Linked DNA regions of Homo sapiens. The protein of the gene in region 4 purifies or fractionates together with the protein of the main gene of each other region. This does not show direct contact. Each region holds a gene or a part of one and is shown on either strand. Other genes may lie near its edges.

Evidence for each region. The genes of interacting proteins can lie anywhere in the genome.
Region 1: the proteins of DLK1 (region 4) and TMEM94 purify together in Homo sapiens (affinity purification with mass spectrometry; 4 studies listed by BioGRID and IntAct, with this or other methods). This does not show direct contact.
Region 2: the proteins of DLK1 (region 4) and UBE3B purify together in Homo sapiens (affinity purification with mass spectrometry; 4 studies listed by BioGRID and IntAct, with this or other methods). This does not show direct contact.
Region 3: the proteins of DLK1 (region 4) and ANKRD13C purify together in Homo sapiens (affinity purification with mass spectrometry; 4 studies listed by BioGRID and IntAct, with this or other methods). This does not show direct contact.

What each region holds. Positions count from the first base shown.
Region 1 is NC_000017.11:75,455,361-75,459,434, forward strand, and holds the start of TMEM94 (transmembrane protein 94), read left to right. Parts: upstream 1-1,274; 5' UTR 1,275-1,391; intron 1,392-1,933; exon of another isoform or gene 1,934-2,117; intron 2,118-4,074. UniProt on the Homo sapiens protein: Could function in the uptake of Mg(2+) from the cytosol into the endoplasmic reticulum and regulate intracellular Mg(2+) homeostasis.
Region 2 is NC_000012.12:109,533,134-109,536,633, forward strand, and holds part of UBE3B (ubiquitin-protein ligase E3B), read left to right. Parts: intron 1-332; coding exon 333-425; intron 426-523; coding exon of another isoform or gene 524-703; exon of another isoform or gene 704-811; coding exon of another isoform or gene 812-931; exon of another isoform or gene 932-1,457; coding exon 1,458-1,649; 3' UTR 1,650-3,500. UniProt on the Homo sapiens protein: E3 ubiquitin-protein ligase which accepts ubiquitin from an E2 ubiquitin-conjugating enzyme in the form of a thioester and then directly transfers the ubiquitin to targeted substrates.
Region 3 is NC_000001.11:70,274,723-70,278,222, reverse strand, and holds part of ANKRD13C (ankyrin repeat domain-containing protein 13C), read left to right. Parts: intron 1-1,378; coding exon 1,379-1,458; intron 1,459-3,404; coding exon 3,405-3,500. UniProt on the Homo sapiens protein: Acts as a molecular chaperone for G protein-coupled receptors, regulating their biogenesis and exit from the ER.
Region 4 is NC_000014.9:100,725,575-100,729,691, reverse strand, and holds the start of DLK1 (protein delta homolog 1 isoform 1 preproprotein), read right to left. Parts: upstream 2,801-4,117; 5' UTR 2,624-2,800; coding exon 2,557-2,623; intron 1,297-2,556; coding exon 1,233-1,296; intron 757-1,232; coding exon 626-756; intron 1-625. UniProt on the Homo sapiens protein: May have a role in neuroendocrine differentiation.

The DNA of each region.
Region 1 (4,074 bases), on a different chromosome or scaffold from region 4:
CCAGCTACTCCGGAGGCCGTGGCAAGAGAATCACTTGAACCCGGGAGGTGAAGGTTGCAGTGAGCCGAGATCAAGCCATTGCCCTCCAGCCTAGGCGACAAGAGCGAAACTCCGTCTCAAAAAAAAAAAGAAAAAAAGAACCTTTAAAGCAAAGCGTAGGGAACCAACCATGTGACGAAGGAGCAGAGGTGGAAAGGTCTCTGTCACGTTTAAAGAATGGTGGTTAATCTATGTGGCTGCAGGAATAGTTTAGCCTGTGGGGACTTAGACCTGGAAACGTATGTCTGAGTCAATTTATGAAGGACTTTGAACATCAGGCAGAAAGATTTGGACCTATTTGCAAAGGTGAACTATCAGTTTTTGTGTGCAGGTTAGTGACATGATTCTTATGGCGTTTTAGGCAACAGCTAAACTGGGTCATACAAGATTAGGTACTAAAATGCCATCTTCTTGTCCAGCTGAGAAAGGGATTTTAATTACGTAATTAAACTCATGAATGTGGGAAGGGGCTCTTACTTCACAAGGCCAACCTCAGCTCTTTCCCAATTATATAAACAAGTTTTTGTTTGTTTTTTTGTTTTTGTTTTTTTTAAACAAGCCTTCCAGACTTAGATCTCTGGGAAAAGAGAAGTAAATACTGACACAGGCTTGCTTTGTTTTCCCAAGAGAGGTCTCCCAGGCGATTTATCTAATTACCTAGAAAAAAAATTTAACTTGTTTTTCCCTTTAGATTTCAGCCGAGCTGGAAGCGGGAGGGGGGAATTGCAGTATTGCCTTAGATTTTCTAGATTTGGTTTGGACGCAATATTCGTCCTGAGGGAGTCCCTCCAAGGCCTCTCGGAGCGGGCAGCCTCTAGGCATTTGTTCAAGGCAACAAGGAGGGAGCTTAGAAGAACTTAAGAGAGGCGGGGAGCTCTGCAAAGGGCTTATTTTAAAAAGAAAGGGAAAAAAGGTGGGGCGCGCCGTCTATCTTTTTAGAATAATTCTGTAGGAAAACGAATCGGAGGTAAAGCCATGCCCTCTGGTCAGGGTTTCTGGACTAGAAACTGCCTGAGCTTTACGCACAGGAAAGGACAGTGGCTCTTCACTCTCCCGGCCGCATCACTCGGCACCTAATTCCGCCAGGCTCCCAGAGGGGCGGTTGCAGCTACAGCCTAGCACGCCGCGTAGCCAATAAGAAGCCAGAATTCCCCCTATTCTCAAATCCTGACCAATCGGTGGCCTGAACTTTAGCTCTCTGGCCGGCGCCTCTGTTGCCCGGAAGGGAGGCAAGCCCCCTTAGAGTTGCCAGTAACGGACATGGCTGCGGCCCCCGGAGGAGGGGACGTGAAGTGAGGAGGGGGTTGGGAGGGGAGAGGACGCGGGCGAGGAAGACCAGCCCCGGGGCCCCGGTAAGTACGAGAAGGCCCGTGGCCCGAAAGTGGGGAGCAAGGGGGCGTGGGGCTCGGCCTTGCGCGTCCTTTGGATTCTTGGCCAAGGAAAGGGGAGTCTGGGGTCTGCACCCAGAGAACGGCTTAAGGGGATGCCTCCTGAGGGGGAGTCCAGGGACTGGCTCTAGTCTCCAGCTCTTGACCATTGCCTTCCCCCGAGTCTTCAGACTCTTGCTCTCAGCCCTGGATTGGTCCATTGTGGGGTCTCTCGCCAGAAATAAAGCCTCTCGCCAACAAAGAATCCCTGCCCCAGGTCTGTCGTGCCTAGGCCCTGGCCCAGAGGGCTCCCAACGCCGACGCCCTGAGTATTTATTTCGAGGCCCCTGGGAGTCCTCATCCCCGACCTAAATAAAGACCGTTGTCCCGCCTGCGCGCGCTCTCCGCAGCCGCCCGGGGTCCTCGCGCGGCCGTCCCCAGCTGGATGGAGCCGGCCGAGGGGCTCCTGGCAGCCATCCCTGATCTTGCAGTTTGGAGCGGGCTTTTTTTTCTTTCCGCCTTTCCAGAAGCGTTTTCAGGCTCCTCGGAAGCTCACCATCCATGCCATCGGATAAAGTGACTCCTGTGGAATGCCCTCGTTCCTGTACCGCACACCCCTGGAGCCCAGGTCTCCTGGTTCCTAGCATGCCACGATGCGGCCCCTGCCCGCTGCCCAGCGCCAGATGCAAGCAAAGCCCCGCTCTTTCATTGGTGTGTCACCGCGGGCTAAACTTTGGCGTTGCCTTGGTCACGTGCTGCTACATCCCACCCTCTCTCCTGAGTTTTTCGGTGGCTCTTGAGGGAAAAAAGGAGGGAGCTCGTTATGGAATCTGTTTTCCTTCTGCTATGTGGGTGTATGCATTGGAGAGAAGGATCTTTTTCTCATGATTTATCCAAGACGCTCAGCTTTAGTGACATAGTTGTTATTCCGCAGGTAATCTTGGAAGATGGAAGCAGGGAGGGGGCAGTTTTAACATTTTCATTTTGCAGATGTGGAGATTGTTCGGAGAGGCAAGGCCAGGGTCACCTAGAGCCAAACTAGAATCCGAAAGTCCAGGGGCTTGAGTTCTTTATCCGCTAGACCTAGTTGTTTCCTAGGTGTGACCTGAGGAGATCAAGTTCCCTGACTCCCCTGAGCTCTTGCAGGGTGGCTCTGGGCATTAAAAGCGATGGGCATTAAAAGTAGGATCCTCCTATGCTTCCTGGCAATGACTAGGGTCTTCATACCTGGTTTGCATTCAGTAATTTTAAGAAGCCAGCAGGTAGTTCTCTGGCAGACTTCTTGTATTAATATTCATTGTAGTCTCTGTCTGTATTGGGGGCGTAAATTATTTTAGTGATTCTCAGGGCAGCGAGAGGCAGAGTAAGAGGAAGGTATGCCTCTTCCTTGGTTTTTGGGAACCATTACAGTGTCATTAGAGATGTTATTAACAGGAACGCGTTGCATACAGGAACAGCGTGGAGGCAGAAAAAGATTGAGAGCCATTGAAGAGAGAAGAAATGGCACTGTGGTATCTCTTTATAGTACTTTTGGCAAAAGAAGAGCTGATCTTGGTATTCTGAAGAGGTAGTTTAAAAAAAAAGTTAGATCCTGAGGCATAACTAAAAGAATACAAATAAATAAAAAAATTTAAAGCAATGGCACTAGTAAGGTTCAAAAGAGTCAAAGTAATGCCTGTAATCCCAGCACTTTGGGAGGCTGCTGTGGGAGGACTGCTTGAGCCCAGGAGTTTGAGATCAACCTGGGCAACACACTGACAAGAAAACCAAAAAAATTAGCTGGGCATGGTGGCATGTGCCTGTGTTCCCAGCTACTTGGGAGGTGGATGCCAGAGGATCGCTTGAGCCCAGAAGGTCGACGCTGCAGTGAGCTGTGATCATGCCACTGCACTCACTCTAGCCTGGGCAACAGAGCAAGACTCTGTCTCCAAAAAAAAAAAAAAGAGTCATGGAATCAAAAAGTTTGAAAATCACTGTAAAGATCAGAGCACATTAAAATGTAGACTATTGGCCGGGCGCAGTGGCTCACGCCTGTAATCCCAGCACTTTGGGAGGCAGAGGCAGGCGGATCACGAGGTCAGGAGATCAAGACCATCCTGGCTAACACGGTGAAACCCCATCTCTACTAAAAATGCAAAAAATTAGCTGGGTATTGTGGCGGGTGCCTGTAGTCCCAGCTACTTGGGAGGCTGAGGCAGGAGAATGGCGTGAACCCGGGAGGCAGAGCTTGCAGTGAGCCGAGATCGCGCCACTGCACTCCAGCCTGGGCGACACAGCGAGACTCCGTCTCAAAAAAAAAAAAACAAAAAAAACAAAAACAAATAAAATGTAGACTATGGTGGTTAACCCTAGAACAGGAGACAGCATGTTCAGATAAAATCCTCAAACATTGCAAGTCTTAGCTGCTATGTTAGCTCTAACTTCCTTGCTCACTGGTTCTCTTTGTCAAAACTGCAAACAGGGAAACTGGTGGATACTGTGGAGTAGTGCAATGACCAGGGAGGTGAAGTACAAACCATCTTCTTCATCATCAGCCCCCAAATAATTGAGAGTTAACTGCCCTTGAACCACCAGACCACCATGCCCCTTGTTTGTGGTGACTTGACATCAGATGAGACTGGGAGAGCCAGGCCTTGACAGTGAAATGGAAGAGAAACCCCATGGCATT
Region 2 (3,500 bases), on a different chromosome or scaffold from region 4:
GAGACCTGCCTCTCGGGGACGCCTCACCAGTGCCCTGGCTGGGCATTTGTGCTGTTCCTACTCTGCAGTCACACGTGCTCTCACAAGTGGCCAGTCGCACCTATTGGGTATGGGTTTCATGTGTCTTAGTCCCCGAGAGCAGCACCCTTGAGAGAGATGTACGGCGTGTGCCAGTTTTGGGGCCAGATCCACCCCGCCACTCCATACGGCTGGCTAGACAGCAGTTACAACACGGTAACAGACAGAGCAAACACGTGCTACACAGCTGCAAGGGCCCGTCCTGGAAGAGCAGGAGCCTGCCCCGTCCCCACTGACCCTGCTTTGTGTTGCAGTTCGTGACCAGCTGCTCCAGACCCCCGCTCCTGGGATTCGCCTACCTCAAGCCTCCATTCTCCATCCGCTGCGTGGAGGTGTCGGACGATCAGGTACCCCCACGGGGTGGGTGGGGAAGAGCCTTGACTTCCCTCTTGGTGGTTGTCTGCTGTGCCCACTGTGCAAGGCCCTTATCTAGTCCATATCTCAGCAAGGCAGGCAGCTGGACCCCTCAGAGCCAAGTGAGGAGGGCCCCACAGTTCTCACGGCAGGAGAACCAGCCAGCCCCAGAGAGACTGCCCACGGACTCAGCCCTCTCTCGGCAGCCCCTTTCTCTTTCCTTCCTCAGGGAAGGGTACCTGGAGTGGGGGTGGGTACGTGCTGTTTTTAGTGGCGTCTGGCCTCACCAGGGCTCCAGATCTGAGGCAGCATGGGAGAAAGTGAGAGAGTGGGCTCAGGAGGCAGGCAGGCGCAGACTCGAATGCTACTCCTACCCCAGCAGGCTGTGCACGTCCAGGCTCGCTGCTTCATTTCCTCATTGGCCAAAGGAGAAGGAAAGCCTTCAGGGTTACGGAGCTCTGTGTGTCTCAAGCCTGGCCCACTGTGGGTGCTCAAATGAGAGTCCTACTCCCCATAAAAACCCAGTGGCCGCCTCTGGGTGTAGCTGCCTCTCATGATGCAGTTTGAGCCCGTGATGCCACCTTGTACAGGAAGCTACACAGTCCTCGGCCTCCATGCTTAAGGGAAAGTTGGCCCAAGTCATGGTCTGCCACCGGCCACAGCACCGGTGAGGAGGGAGGAGTGCATTCAGAAATGTTTGGGCACCTAACAGTTTTTACAGCATTCTACTTTTTGTCAATTGGTTAACCAGTAATTCGCTGTGAACCGGAAGGCCCCATTTCCAAAAGCTTACTTAGTGCAGGAATTCTCTGTGCAGGCCCCAGGGAGAAGGGGTTCCTTCTCTGGAAGCCAGTCGTCTTGTGTCTGGGGCTTGACCTCGGGTAGTGGTGCCAGGGCAGCGCCCTGCACTCTGCCCAGCATCCAGGGACTGGCCAGATCCCCTCCCTGGGCTCCCTGGCCTTGGCATCAGCCTGGGCTCCCAAACTAGGCCCTTCCCAATTCAAGGCCACGATGTGTGCCTTCAGGACACCGGGGACACTCTGGGCAGCGTCCTCCGGGGCTTCTTCACCATCCGCAAGCGGGAGCCAGGCGGCCGCCTGCCCACCTCCTCCACCTGCTTCAACCTGCTCAAGCTGCCCAACTACAGCAAGAAGAGCGTCCTCCGCGAGAAGCTGCGCTACGCCATCAGCATGAACACGGGCTTTGAACTCTCCTAGCTCCTGTCCCAGCCCTGCCTCCAGGGCTCCTGGGCTGCCAGGGACCTTCAGCTCCCAGAGGCAGTGTGGTCCTGGGAATGTGACCAACATGCCAGGTGACATTGGCCCCTAGACCCTCTCTATAGCCATGAGACTCCTTGTGGCCTCAAGAAATTTAGACGCCCACGACAGCACTACACAGCATCTCCAGGTGATGCCCAAGGCACAGGGCTGCAGAAAATAAACCTCCAGATTCCACCAACACGGGTCCATTCTTCCTGGTGATGGCAGAGGGGCTTCTTTTAGCTAGTTTGATCTTTTGGGAGTCTGTCTTTCCTTAGCCGTCTGAGTGAGCTGTGTATGAACAAGTCCCAGGAGTTCCAAGAGTCTAGAGTGGTTTTTGCAGCATGGGTTGAGTGTACAAAGCCTACTGTGCGTGAGATCCTCTCCTTCCGTTTCTGAAATCTCTTACTCAGGTAAGGCCTCGCCAAGCCTCTATGCACCCCACAAAGTTTCTGCCTCCATGCCGTCCACAGCGCCTCTTCCCAGACAGCCAGGCCCATCTGCTGCCCAGGGAAGCGCAGGCGCCTGCTAGGGACGCTATGGACACCGTGAGTCCAAGGCGCTGCTCCTGCCTTGAAGCCACGCGCTCCACGCCGCGGCCCTCCCATTTTCTGCGTCCTCAGCGGGCTGAGCTGCCAGAGAGTCTTCCCGGACCTATTCCCGTCCTATGCATTCACATTGGCATCCTGGTTTGGGGGAAGAAAAACAACGGCCCTTAGCAGCAGCCCCGTTTCCAGAATGTGCTGCCTGTTCCCCAAAGCCTGCTTGTCCCGCGGAGGACGGCTGCCTTTGACCCTGCTTATTTGTCTCACTGGTTATCTAATGAGGAACAAACACTAACCTAAGGTACACATCCCATCTGGGCGGTGGCTTCACTCCTGAGTCTGCAAAATCCCAGGAAACTTGGGTCTTGCTGCCCATCCTTCCTCAGCACAGGGAACCCGGAAGCCCGTTGCACTGACAGAGGCTCACACCCTCTGGGTTTTTTGTTTTTTTTTTAAACTTCATTTCTCTTCCAACCCATTGTGTTCCTCTGCCCTCATTCTTTACCTTTGTTGTAAGAACTTTAGCTCCAGGGAACTGAGGCAGAGGCCCTGTTTGTGGTCTGTGTTGACAGCCACCCACCCTCTCCCACCTCATGCTCCTGCACCTGCACCACCAAGGTTGATGCCGGATTCGAAGCCAGGAAGGCCCAGTCCCTCCTCTGCTCTCCTCAAAGACGCAAAACATTTTCCAACAAGAGCTGTCACAGTGGCAGCAAAGCAGGGGCCACCCGTCTCCACAGTCCTTCAGAGTTTCAGCTGCATCCTGGTGTCCCACCCAGGTCGAGCCCCCAGGCTTCTGGAAAAGAGTGTGTGCTCTACTTTGATGGAAACATGGCAAGGAATTTAAAGACAGGAATGTATTAATATTATTGAAGGTGTGTTCGTAACCTCTGATTCTGTGGACTTGCCACTTTCTCCAAACGCTCGGTTCCTTTGAAGATTTCTTCTGAACGTGTGTGCGCACGCTGGGCGGGTTCGTGCATACATGCGGGGACCCCAGACTGTCAGCACAGGGAAGATGGATCCCATCCTAATTTTTATCACCTGAAGGTTGGAACCAGTGAGGGACTGGGAGAGAGTGATTTATAAGCACCAATATCAACTTCATGTGGATTTTTGACAAGGAGGGGTAGTTTGTAATTTCATTTAAATTCTTTTCAGCAGCTGGAAATATTGCACTATCTGAAACACTGAATCTCCTTTTGTAACTGGTGTTCACTGACACCTTGATGGCTCTTGATGGCTCTAAAAAGTTGTAGGATTT
Region 3 (3,500 bases), on a different chromosome or scaffold from region 4:
CCACGCCTGGCCAGTTCTTTTTTTTTTTTTCTGTGAGGCAGGGTCTTACTTTGTTACCCAGGCTGGAGTGCAGTGGCATAATCATGGCTTACTGCAGCATCAACTTCCTGGTCTCAAGTGATCCTCCCGCCTCAGCTTTTCAAGCAGCTGAGACCACAGGCACGCACCACCACACTCAGCTAATTTTTTTTTTTTTTTTAAGAAACAGAGCCTCATTATGTTGCCTAGGCTGGTCTCAAACTCATGGGCTCAAGTGATTCTCCTGTCTTTGTCTCCCGAAGTATTGGGATTACAGGCATGAGCCACTGCACCTGGCCCAGGAATTTCCAATTTCCTTTTCTGCTCCAGAGTTTAGTTCCTTATTGCCAGTTCATCTTATAGTGATTGAAATTCATATTTAGCAAAGATAGGGTGAAAGTTTTAAAATCTGACCTTTGCGATTTTTACCATCTACTGTTGATCTCCGTTTTGAACTTCCCATCTGAGTTTAAATCAGTCTTCTTGTGTTTTTTACCTTTAATTTTCTCTGTTTTAAAAACACTCTGTTTCATCTTCATTTAAATCTGAAGTCCAATTGCATAGTCTTGATCTTTACCCACAGAAGATTGCTATCTTTTCTCATATATTTTCTATTTTCTATAATCTCATTTGGCCTTTAATAATATGCTCTTTTATATTTCTGGTTAACTGTTCATGTCTGTATTTTTTTTTTCTTTCCAACTGAATTGTAAATTCCTTGAATCAGAGTTTTGTTTTTTTTTTTTTTGAGGTGGAGTCTGCTTCTGTCACCCAGGCTGGAGTGCAGTGGCACGATCTCGGCTCACTGCAACCTCCACCTCCTAGATTCAAGCAATTCTCTGCCTCAGCCTCCTGAGTAGCTGGGATTACAGGCACTCACCATCACGCCCGGATAATTCTTTTGCATTTTTAGTAAAGACGGGGTTTCACCATCTTGGCTAAGCTGATCTTGAACTCCTGACCTCGTGATCCACCCGCCTTGGCCTCCCAAAGTGCTGGGATTACCGGCATGAGCCACTATGCCTGGCCCAGAGTTAGTTTTTACACTTCTCTGTAGTTCCATGTTCAGCAGCTAGTATAATGACAGGAACATTTTAGATGATTGAAGCATTGACTGAATGGGTGTTATTATTTTGATATTTGTCTTTTTGGGATTTAAAAAAAAATTGATAATAAATATTACCAATAGAGCTTAAACCACCATGGAACGATCTTGGAAGGAACCTTTTCAAGTATTATATTGAAGAGATTAAGTAGATTGTTAGTTTTAATAGTTTACGATGTATTTTAATCTTATATTTAAAAAATAACATCTTTCTTTCTCCCCCACCCCACTTTCTTTCTTTTTTTTTTTTGGCAGCCGATTCGAAGACAGTCTCTTACACCTCCTCCTCAGAACACTATTACATGGGAAGAATATATATCTGCTGAAAATGGAAAGTAAGTTTTTTTCTTGTTTATGTGTTATTTGGTTTTTAGAAAGAATAATTTGTAAAAACTGAATATGTGAATATTTTGGCGTAAATTATTTTGGAGAGAATTATTGGTATATTTTTGACTGAAGCAATTCTTCTACCTTTTAAAAATATGGATTAAATATGATAAGGGCAAAGTGTCCCAAATTATGTACCCTCTTTGCAAATGGTTGTAGATCTTTCTGTATCCATCCTGTCAATTTATACACACCTAAAAAACTAAAAGACACTGTTCTAAGGAAATATGATATAGGAAATTGCGCAGGACAGTTGCTTATTTGAGATTTCCCATTGTATGATGAGCTTTTCTATTTTGTGATTATCCTGATTTTTTAGCATAGTGTGCAAGCCCATTCATTATTTATCTTCTTTTTGCCTTTCCAAGCTCCTCACCTGTCATTATCCTTTAGTTTCAACCTATGCTAGACTACTTCTCACTGTCCTTCCATAGGACCTTTGCTGATGTAATATTACTAACAGTAGAGTGCCTACCACATAGCTCATACTCAGTTTATATTTATTGACTAAAAGAATGATGAATGAATAAAGAAAGGGTTTATTTTTAATAAATAGATAAGTAAAAAGTGTATCCTGGCCAACCATTATTTCCTTTTGGTGGAGAATAAAATATAAAATATTGCTTTCCTGCTCCTGTTTAGGAAGAAGTTGTCATTTTTTTTTCTTATTGAAAGTTTTGTTATATTTTTCTGAATTCTCCAAGATGTTTCCATCTTAATATTTTTATAGTTTTTTTTTTTTTTTTTTTTTGAGATGGAGTCTTGCTCTGTCGCCCAGGCTGGAGTGCAGTGGGCGTGATCTCAGCTCACTGCAACCTCCGCCTCCCAGGTTCAAGCCATTTTCTCACCTCAGCCTCTCGAGTGGCTGGGAATACAGGTGCGCTCCACCATGCCCAGCTAATTTTTGTATTTTTAGTAGAGACAGGGTTTCACCATATTGGCCAGGCTGGTCTCAAACTCATGGGCTCAAATGATCCACCTGCCTCGGCCTCCCAAATGCTGGGATTACAGCTATGAGCCACTGCGCCTGACCTTAATATTTTATGGTGCTAAACAAAATTTATGAGGGTATTATTGTATTAGATTAGCCTCCTGCATGCACTAGGCACCAGCAGACCATACCAAACCAGAATGTAGTTACTTCTGCTAAGTACTACATAATTAAACTGAACTTTGAAATGGGCCAGTTTAAAATGAAAAAAAAAAAAGGACATTCCAGGCAACCTGAGTCAACATAGTAACTAAGTCTTCTGTTTTTTTAACTGTATAAGGAAAGCAACTTTGAAATAACCAGATCACCTTTTTTCCCCACCGTTTCCACTTCAGCCTTTTCAGTCTATAAAGATAACCTCCTCTTTTCAGCTTATTGGAACGCTCATTCTATTTTACAGAATTAGGTATTGTCCTGTGCTAGAGTTGCAAATAAAAGCCAATTAGATCTTTATGCTACATTGATAATTTTCTTTTGATAATAGTTAATATAGAATTCCTTATTCTTCACAATATTTCTTATTGATCAATGCAGAGGCTGTAATAGACAGTAAAGAAGATTGAATTGAATAAGTGACTTTAAAGATATACAATAATACCTTAAAAATTTTTTTACTAATGATTTTCTTTATTCCTAAAAATAGTGGTTATTAAAATTATATTCAATGTGAAATTAGTTTAGATCTAATAATTTCTGAACTTTTACTCTTTGCTATTCTTTTTTATTGCCCTTGTCTTAATTTCTTATACATATCTTATTCCCTTTTAGCATAACTTTATTTCTGTAGACAGAGTAAGAAAAATTGAAATATTAATGAATGTCATTGAAAGATGACAGATGCTTCTTAGGAAGGTGATAGACTATGGAAAAAGTTTCCTAACATTTTTTTTCCTCCCATTTTAGAGCTCCTCATCTGGGTAGAGAATTGGTGTGCAAAGAGAGTAAGAAAACGTTTAAAGCTACGATAGCCATGAGCCAGGAATTTCCCTTAGGGATAGA
Region 4 (4,117 bases):
AAGATTGCATAAATTAATGAAATCAACAGATAACACCCATCTTCACTTTAACCCTTTCTCAGCTTTTCCCAACTGCAGCCTCCCCCTACACCTGACCCACTCAGTCCAGGCCCCCCAGCCCTGTCCTCCTGGCCCTGACTCAGCACCTGCCCCTCAACCACTGAGCAGTGCTGGCCACCCCCCACCCCGTTTGTTTGTTTGCAGCCTCTTTACAGTCTTGCGTGTGCTTTTCTAGGGAGTCTTAGCTCTGAGATCCCCAGAGCCCTGTCCATCACTGGGCTTCCATGACCTGGACAGGCAGCCTGGGGTCTGTGGTCCCACCGGCCCAGCTGTATGTGTATTTTGTGACTCTTTATTCAACAGGCAGCTCCCTGGCCCCCACGCCATGTTCCCTCTAGGTGCTGGGTGCTGATGGCGCAGAGAAGAGCAAAATAAAGTCCCTACCTCTGAGGAGGCATTCGGTACCCACAGGAAATTTATAAACAGATCTTTAGAATACAGGGCACGGAGTGTGCAGGAATGAGGAAGTGAGGAACACCAGCAACAGGAGACTGGGAGGAGGTGGTAGGGGCTAGGGCAGGCAGGTAAGGACGCAGAGCTGAGGTGAACAAAGGCGAGTGCCAACCTCTATCACAGAGCTCCCCGTCCCAGCCGTCGGTGCAAATGCACTGCCCGGGTTCTCCACAGAGTCCGTGAAGGCAGCCGGGAGAGGTCACGCACTGGTCACAAAGGGGACCCTGCCAGCCAGGCTGGCACCTGCAATGGGTGGGGGAGAAAGGTGGGGACATATGAAGAGGGCAGGGGTAGAGAGGCAGCTCAGGCTACTTTCTGTGGAACCAAGGACCCTTGGGGGTCTTTGCACAGTGGCAGCCGGTGGTCCTGGGAAGTAAACACCAGCCACCTGAATGGGAAAACTTAAAGAGAAAACATGCCAAGCTGAGGGGGCCGACTTGGAGGGGCCCCGAGATCCCGGGGGAGTGCTGCGTTTTGCCGCAGTGGCCTGCAGTGGTCCCACCTGCCCCCCCACCTCTGAGAACGCAGACAGGAGCTGTGGCTGCCCCCCCCCCGCCCCCCCCATCTCCCCAGCTCGCCCCACCAGTTTTCTGCAGGGGCCCGGAAGCTGTTTGCTGCAGCGTAGTGGCCAAGCCCCCTATTTTTTTCTGCCTGACTTCACGACTCCCCAGGCTTCTGCGTGGCCCCTACAAGCTGCCTCTGAGGAGCCACTCTATTACCTGCAAACATTGTCATCCTCGCAGAATCCATTTTGGGGGTTGCAGGCCGGGAAGCATTCAGCCCCTGAGGTACAAGAAAGGTTATACAATTCACCCCACCAGGCCCCAGGCCAAGGCAAAGGCTGTCTTCGCCCACACAGCCCACCACTGCCCTCGAGGGCACCAACAGCCCTCTTGGGTCCTACCAGCCTGGCACACAGTAGGCACTTCCTATCCGAGCATGGATGGGGCTCAGTGCACTCAGGAAAAACATCTCTGCCACGTTCCCAGCAATGAAATGACCACAGTACACTCTCCCTCGTTCTTAGGAGCAGGAGAAACACCTTCTCCTCGGACTCCCAAAAGCAAATACGACACCTCAAGTCCTCCTAACAGCGGGGACGGGGACCGTGGAGGGAAATATGTTGAGCCCTGGGCATGCAGCCTGACCGTCACTTTTGCAACCTGAGCTGAAAAGAGGAGCAGATTTTGAGGTGTTCAACTCCGGGAAAGCCCAGACAGGTTCACCTGGTGGGCGCCCCAGTAAGGCGTCTGCATTCTTTTTAAGGTTCATCCCTATTAAGCCGGGCACCCAGGTCAAATCTTCCCTCTTTCCCCTACCCCAGACTCTTCGCATTAAAAAAACGATGACGACACAGGGTTTTGCTTAGCGGGCTGAGGTTGCAACAACACTGCTTAGAGATTCTGACACTTTAACAGGCACCTACTGTGTGCATTTACTCAACCAGCTCCCCAGCTTTCTAGACAGCCCCCTTACAACCACTGGTGCAATGAGTGGGGGGGCGCTGCAGGAAGGGGGCAACTCTCTCGCTGTCAGAGACAGATGGCCGCTGCAGACAGAAGTGTCGCAGCCCCTCACCTACAGAAACGCGCCACGCAGGAAGGGCTCAGGCTGGGCTTCTCTGGGAATTGGGGGCTAAGACGGCAAAGTCGTCCCCCACTCCCGCCCCGAGACCTGTTCCAGAACGCTCACACAGGGACACCCCAAAGTTGCACCCCAGAGTATTTTCATAGAAGACTCCACAACAGCACCCCATTTTTCCATACCTCCTTGCTCAGCGCACCGACACCCCTCTGGCGCCACTTCTGCAGGGCGGGAAGGGGCTGGGGGTCTCACACATCCCCTGCGCCCTGGGACCCCTGGGACGGGCCTTGGCATGCGAGCGTGGTGGGTAGGGCGAGACAGGCACAGCGCGGGGCTTAGGGCTAGGCGGGACGGGCGGAGTTGGGGCTCACGAGACGGGGCGTGCGGGGCACCGGGCGGCCGGCGGGGAGTCGCAGGCTTCCCCAGAGGGGGCGCGAGCCGGGCCGCCGGGGAACTCACCATAGGTGCTGTGGCCGAAAGCCAGCAGGAGCAAGAGGACGCGCAGGAGGGCTTCGGTCGCGGTCATCTCTGGGCGGCCGGGGTCGCGGTCCCGGGAGCGGTGCGGGCGCGGGTCCGGCTCCTGGCGCCGCACTGGGCTTCTGGTTGCGGACGCGAAAGGGGGCGCGGGCGCGCAGCGAGGGGAAAGCCAGGGCTGCACCGGGCTGCGCGCTGCGCTCTCCACCGCCGCTGCCGGGGAGCTGCCGCCGCCGCCGCGCGCGCCGCCCTTTTCGTACCGCCTCCCCCCTCGCGGCCCCCGCCCCCCGCCCCCGCCTCCGTGCGCACGGGGCCGGCGCCGGCCAGTCCCTGTGACCCCCTCCCCTCGCAGGGCCGCCCCCGACCACGGCGGCGTCCCAGAAGCCCGCTCGCGCACACGGGTGCACTCTTGGCTAGACGGGCACAGGTATCCCGCGAGCGTTTGGTACACGTTCCCTCACACTGTACAGCACGCGGCCGCCGCGCACATACAGGCCTGCCTAGGACAAGTCGCAGGAATCGAACCTGGGCCGCAGACCTCCCCGGAGAGCACAAATCCGCACGCAGGAACACCGAAACACTTATCGCTGAAGTCCCGGGCACACGTGCAATGGTTAGATACCCAGGAAAACACAAAGGCGCACTATGAAGATGTGAACTAAGCACATAATTACACACGCACACAGAAAAACCCCCAGGAAAAGCCCGACGCCCCCTGTACCCCTGGCCATGAAGACGCAGAAAAATGCAGTTGCCCCGTGGCAACCCACACCCCGCAACGGAAACGCACACGGCAACTCAAACACACTGTAGCCCAGACGCCGTATAGACACAGTCCTAGGTGGCAGAGGGTCAAGCGGACCTGCGGTTACCCAACCATGGGCATCCTCCCCCATGTGCCGACCCCCTGCACACAGACGCTTACGCAGAGCCACCTGCACACCCAAACACGCAAACACACGTATAAACAGACGGACACCCGTGCCCGCATTCAGTCACACCCACCCCCGCACACACAGCATCTCAGTCAGGGCCTTAGCCGCGCTGAAACACAAATGCACCGACTCTTACGCACACATGTACGCACAGCCATGCACCTGATACCCACAAGCACACATACCCAGCTGACTCGTGGTCACACACACTGACAAAAACATATACGCAGTCCCCACACACACACGATCGCATCTGTCTTTGTCCACAGTGGCATGCATGGGCAGCCTCACCAATGTGCTCTCACATACACACAATAGCACTCCAGGCACTCGGCACGTATTCCAGACTCACTGGGAGACCTTCTCTGAGGGGTCGCCCGCTGGAGAGGTGGAGGTAGAGGATGCTGATTGCCAGAGACCCTCTTCCTCTGCAGAGCTCCCAGGGAGAGGGAGTGCTCCTCAGACACCCCTCCTCCCCATTGCCCCCGGCTTAGGCTTAGAGCCCTGCTGGAGAGGAAAGCTCTGCACCCCTGCACCCAGTCTGGATGGGGGAGGCTCAGAAAGATAGGGAGGGAGAGGGGTAGGAGGGGATTAAAGATATTTCACCTCCT